Regions from separate parts of the Homo sapiens genome. Here region 1 is linked to region 2. The links come from fine-mapping of genetic effects on plasma protein levels. Region 2 holds a variant in brackets. A gene starts in the other region. All regions are shown on their reverse strands. Region 1 holds the start of KLK4 (kallikrein related peptidase 4). Region 2 overlaps CNTN2 (contactin 2).

What was found. A credible set is the group of variants that fine-mapping cannot tell apart. PIP is the chance, under the fine-mapping model, that this variant and not a neighbour inherited with it causes the effect. The UK Biobank Pharma Proteomics Project read protein levels with antibody pairs (Olink). The fine-mapping took linkage between variants from a reference panel, not from the people measured, so its PIPs are less certain.
Region 1: KLK4 starts here. The variant in region 2 is the best candidate, but not a certain one, in a credible set for the plasma level of the KLK4 protein (UK Biobank, PIP 0.52).

The regions. Positions count from the first base shown.
Region 1 is chr19:50,909,978-50,912,882 of GRCh38, reverse strand. It overlaps KLK4 (kallikrein related peptidase 4), which reads left to right and starts at 1,488. Exons shown (of 6, transcript NM_004917.5): 1 at 1,488-1,544; 2 at 2,134-2,205. The coding sequence starts at 2,145.
Region 2 is chr1:205,074,368-205,077,272 of GRCh38, reverse strand. It overlaps CNTN2 (contactin 2), which reads right to left. Exons shown (of 23, transcript NM_005076.5): 23 at 1-2,905. Among named protein-coding and RNA genes, the nearest start is that of TMEM81, 8.6 kb to the left of the region's middle. RefSeq lists cis regulatory regions at 1,535, 1,985, 2,047 and enhancers at 1,463-1,607, 1,913-2,057, 1,975-2,119. The variant C/T (reference allele first, on the strand shown) is at 1,314.

The DNA of each region.
Region 1 (2,905 bases), not on the chromosome of region 2:
CCCTGATGAGTCCCCGCTGTTTCTCGGCAGTCCTGACCTCGGCCTGCCCCTCCGTGCACCCTCCGCGGTCTACGGCACCCTCTCACCCCCCACCCCCCTTCCCGCACCTATGCGTCTCCACAAGATCCGTAGAGCGCAAGCCAGCAGACCAAGCCTCCACGCCATCCTTGGCCCCTCTGCTCCTGGCCCCCCACTTTCCATCCATCGGGCAGTAACTTGGCTCCACATGCAGAGGGGACCCCGTGTCCATTCACCTCTCTTCTCCCTTGACCCCGTCACCTCCCACCTGGGCTGTTGCCACTGCCCCCCGCCCCGCCCCCACCATCACTCTCCAAGCTGGAAGTTTTTAAAAAGTAAATAAGATTATGTCACTCCATCCTCGTGCTTAAAATCCATTGCACTTAAGTAAAACCCAAGCTCCTTAATCCTGGTACGTAAACTCCTGCAGGCCCGCCCGGTTCCCGGTCTGCGCTCCTACCCGCCCTGCCCTCCTACCCGCCCTGCCCTCCTCTGGCTGGAGCCAAGTTCTCCCCTGCACCCCGCAACCGCCCCTGCTGCGGCGACCCTCCTCCTCCTCTTCCCTGGGATCTCAGCTTAAATGTTCCCCTTCTCTGAGTCTCCCCGACCACCACCTTATATGCTGGTCCCTGCAGTTTTCCTTTATGGTCTGTGCCCCCGGGTAGGACGCGATCCCCAGTGACGAGGACTTTGCTGGTTCCTCCTGTGGCCCCAGCACCTGCCGCAGAGCTCGGAGTGTGGTAGGCACTCAGCTGCTTTTCACTGAGCGAAGACTTTTTAGTTCTCCCGCTCACCGAGAGCCTACAATGTGCCTGGCACTGTGTGCCTTTCCCTGAATTACCTCTTTGAATCCACTTGGGAAATGGGGCATAATGGTCACTCCAGTTTTACAGTTGGAAAAACAGGCTCACAGGGGTGCAGTCACTTGCCCAAGGTTCCAAAAATAGTTCGTGATGTAGGCTGGATACGAACCTGGGGAAATTTGCTGGAGAAGCACAGAAAGAGAGGGATGAAGGAGGAGGGGAGAGAGAGAGAGAGATTTAATTTAAAAAGAGAAAGAACATGAGAGAGAACAGGAGAGAATGAGAGGAAATGAAAGAAAACACGAGAAAAATAATGAGAGAGAGAATGAGAGAAAGAAAGAAGAAGAGAAAGAGAAAATGAGAGATACAGGCAAGAGAGAGGTATCTCATGAGAGAGAATAAGAACATGAAAAGAGAAAGAATGAGAGAGAGAGAGAGAAAGAAAAAGGAGAGTGGAGTCTAGGATCTGGGCAGGGGTCTCCTCCCTGGGTCCCTAGACCCTGCTGCCAGCCCCTTCTGGGCCCCCAACCACTGCCTGGTCAGAGTTGAGGCAGCCTGAGAGAGTTGAGCTGGAAGTTTGCAGCACCTGACCCCTGGAACACATCCCCTGGGGGCAGGCCAGCCCAGGCTGAGGATGCTTATAAGCCCCAAGGAGGCCCCTGCGGGAGGCAGCAGGCTGGAGCTCAGCCCAGCAGTGGAATCCAGGAGCCCAGAGGTGGCCGGGTAAGAGGCCTGGTGGTCCCCCACTAAAAGCCTGCAGTGTTCATGATCCAACTCTCCCTACAGCTCCATGTCGCTGGATTCTCAGCCTCTGTGCCTTCTGTCTCCACATCTCTCTAGACAGATCTCTCACTGTCTCTAGTTAGGAGTCACTGTCTCTAGTTAGGGGTCTCTCTGTCTCTCTGAATCTATATCTCCATGTCTAACTCTCAGACTGTCTCTGAGGATATCTCTCAAGCACTCTGTCTCTCCGGCTCTGATTCTCTGTGTGTCTTCCCTCCATGCTTGTTTGTGGGTGGCTAGACACCATCTCTCCCCATTCACAGATGGCTAGATGCTTTCTCTAAACTTTCCTTTCTACCTAGTTCTCTCTCTCTCTCTCTTTTCCCATCTCTCTCTCTCTTTTTCTCTCTCAGTCTCTAAATCTGTCTCTCTAGGTTCTGGGTCCATGGATGGGAGAGGGGGTAGATGGTCTAGGCTCTTGCCTACCTAATAACGTCCCAGAGGGAAGAAAGGGAGGGACAAAGAGAGGGATGGAGAGACTTGGGCTGAAGATCCCCAGACACGGCTAAGTCTCAGTCCTCATCCCCAGGTGCTGACGTGATGGCCACAGCAGGAAATCCCTGGGGCTGGTTCCTGGGGTACCTCATCCTTGGTGTCGCAGGTATCTGAGTATGCGTGTGTGTGTCTGTCCGTGCTTGGGGGCACAGTGTTTGTTAATGTTCAGGTGTGACTCAGTGTCCTCTTGCTTGTGACTGCAAAGCTGCCTGTGAGACGGTACCGTGTTATCCGTCCCCCATGGCTGTGCCCCTGCAACTCCTTGTATCGTGGTAAATTTGTGTGTGGCAGTGTGCCTGGGTGTGTGGTTGTACCTGTGAGACTCTGACAGTTTGTGCCTCTGAATATCTGGTGGAGTGACAACAGTGTAATGATGATATGGGGACAGGGGAAGCCGAGGGTGCAGGAGATTGTGCTTCCTGGGGCGTGATCCATTGCTGGGAATCTGTGCCTGCTTCCTGGGTCTTCAGTCCTGAGATCCCCCTCTCCCATCCCCAAGGAACTCACCTCACAGGACTATAAAACGGTGTTTTGGTGTGCATGGGCTTGTGGCTTGGTGTGACTGTGGGCAAGGCTGGGAGAGGATAGGAGTGACTCGGCGCAGGACCGACTCTTTGAGCATCAGTCTGCGCAGACAAGTGACCCGATCCTTGCTCCCAGCAACAACTCCACCCCCTGAGCTTTAATTCACCCCGAAGGACCCGATCCTACTGCTATGAGCCTAGACTCCTCTGTTGAACCCCTCCTGACCGTGGCTTTGCACCGCGATGGCACCAGTCTCACCTCCAGAGCTCACCCCAGAGCCC
Region 2 (2,905 bases):
GCCCTAAAGAGGCAGCATACGCTGGGATGAGCACTGGGCTGTAACCAGAATTCCTAGATGAGCCCCCTTAATGGCTTCCCATAAGGTGCAGGGCCACAGAAGGTGGGATCTCCAAGACTTCCTGGGCTGAACACTTTGATTCTAAGAGTCTCATCTCTGGATGGACACTTGGACCATCTCCTGCCCCTCCAGTCACAGCTTCACCTTTCCCAAATCCCATGTCAACAGCTGTCAAAATTCCTCAAAGCTCCCTCAGAAAGAAGCCTCTTCCTTATTCCAGGGCCTCCTGGAATGAGGAAGGTCATTCCAGAGGTTTTTTTCTGATGTTTAACCTCAGTCTCGTCTGTTGTTACTTTATGAAAAGAAAAAGACACCCCCACCTACCCCCATGGCCTTGCCACTCCCTGGCACCATTTGTATCATTTGTTGCCCTGAATGAAAGCAGATAACCTGACCTTGCTGGGCCCTGAGACTCTGTCTGGAGAGAGCTGCCTTCCCCCTGAGGCTGGGTGTACATCTGGACTGTTAGAGCAACAAGGACCAGAGAGCCAGGGCAAAGGGCTCTGTAAGGGGAGCCCAAATGTATGCAGAAGAGAGGACACTTGTCTCCCTAGGCCCTGGAGAGGTGCCTACAGTTGGTTCCTTTTCCTAGTCCCCAGGGTGTTTACTGGCCACTAAGCTGTGGGGTAAAGTACTTGTTTGTGGCTGTTCCTCTTGCCGCCTCCTCTGGGGCTTGATGTATGAGAGGAGATAACCCAGAACTGTGGTCTCATGATCGCAGTGAAAATAAGCACACTCTCAACTCCCCCAGCCCATCTGGGCAGAGAACACGAAAATCAGAGAACCCCTGCGCAGGAGGGGATCCTGAGAAACATCTAATCTAGTCTTCTGCAAGCAAGCTCATGTACAAGTCACTCTAGCAGGAGGCTGTTGCATTTTACAAGCTTGCATGTCCTCAGGTCACCTATTGTCTTATTAAACCTTAGTCAGTACTCTACCTGAAATCTCAGGCTGCAGGAACATTTATTTTGTTGTCGTTCTATCCCTCAAACAAATTCTGCCTGCCCAGTGGTTAGGTTTTCCTGGGGCTCAGTTTTCCCTGGCTAAAAACCCTTCGTGGGTCTCCCAGGAGGTCTGCCTTCCTCCCCTTTTTAGTGGACCTCATTAGCATTAAGGTACTTACTTGTGAGTAACTATCGTTGGCCTGAAGCAAGTTTAGTGGCTGTAGCCTCTAGCTTCACTGGTTAGGTCCTATGCCAAACCAGCTCCTCCCTCGGCCCAGCAACTGGACACCTGTCCCCTGCTTCCCCTGA[C/T]GCAGCCCGAGGCAATGAGGAACGAATTGGATAAAACTTGGAAGGAGGTTTTGTTCAGCATCCCCTTTCTGATAGAGAACCAGGCACAGGCCAAGTCGTGGCCAGAGGGGGGCCAGGAGGGATGCTAGGCCAAGTTTGGACTCCCTGTCAGGGAGAATGGTCGTATAGCTGAGCCCCTAGCACCCTTGCTTGTAAGGGTTGGGAAGAGGTGAGGAGGCTTTCATTAGCCAGCTCCAGGAAAGCTGACCTGGGCTAGGGGTGGGTGGGTAGGGTGCAGTGGGGGTTTGGCTGTGGCAGGGAAAAGGCATGTGAGCTTATATTTTTAAAAAATTGTAGTGGGTAAACATCAACATAAACCTGCCCAGGAAAATAGAGCAGGACTTAAAAGTTTAAAAAACCATAACAAAATAGAGCTCTAACTATAAACTACAGAAAACAGGCTCGGAGCTTCCGAGGACATATGCCCTTCAAGATGCCTGTCCCGCTGCCCCCTGTGAAGGGCCACCTGTCGGAGCATGGGCTTTGGGGTTTCCTAGTTGTGCTGCTGCTCTTGCCTAGGGAATCTGCTCTTGCTTTGGCCTCTTTTCTTGGGGCAAGAGTGAGGGGGACAGGGAGCTTCAAGTCAGCCCTCCATGTTGAAGTTTGGTAGAAGCTCTGCCCACACCTTGGACGGGAACCCAGCCATGCCAATCCCCATGATCACCAATCCGAACCCCTTGAAGTAGAATTTTCACACCCTACTGACTAATCACCTTCTTAGCCAGGCCATAGCCATTCAGCAGTGCCTCCTTCCTCTGGGTAGACAAACAGCCTTGAACAGAAAGGTGGAAGACTCGAGTTCTTAACCCAGCCCCATCTCTTCTGGGCTGTGTGACCTTGGGAATCCCAGACCCTCTCTGGACCACCTCCATTTCCTCATCTGTAAAGTGAGGGGCTTGAAGAAGTTGAGCTCTAAGGCTTCTTCCAGCTCTGACGTTCTGTGACTGGTAGTATACCCAGAGCTCAGGAAAGGATGGCCCATTTATTAACCCCTTTTTCTCCGGGGAAATGCAAGCAGTCCAAGGCCGTCTGGGAGCGGATCTGGCCAGGTGGTCCTAGGTATACCTGGGAGCAGGCAGGGCCACATTTATCCTCTGCCCTTCCCAGAAACCTCCCAATACCAGGACACACAGCATGAATGCTGCATTCCCCTCCCAGGCAGGAGTGAGTCAGTGCTGGGAGAGCAGAGTCTGGGGCTGCAGGTCGGGGAGGCCGAGCTGACTGCAGGCAGCACTGGAGAGGTGGGCGCATGATTGGCCATCTCCTGCCCAAACCCTGGAGGGACTGTGCAGAATGGGTCTTGGAGGGGTGGGAGACCCCACCAAGACAAGCCCTTTAGTCACCCAGCCACCTGAAGTGGCGCTGTCAATCGGGATGACAGGGTCAGGTTGGCAGTGTTGGCTGAGAGGGCATCGTCACCTGGGTTGTGACTATCTCAGACCAAGGCTGGTGCCCCTTTCCACCAAGGGCCCTGGCCTCTCAACTCTTTTTGGCTCCCACCCCAAACAGCCTGGAGTATCACCCCCCTCAAAGCTGAAGGGGCTCAGGCTCCC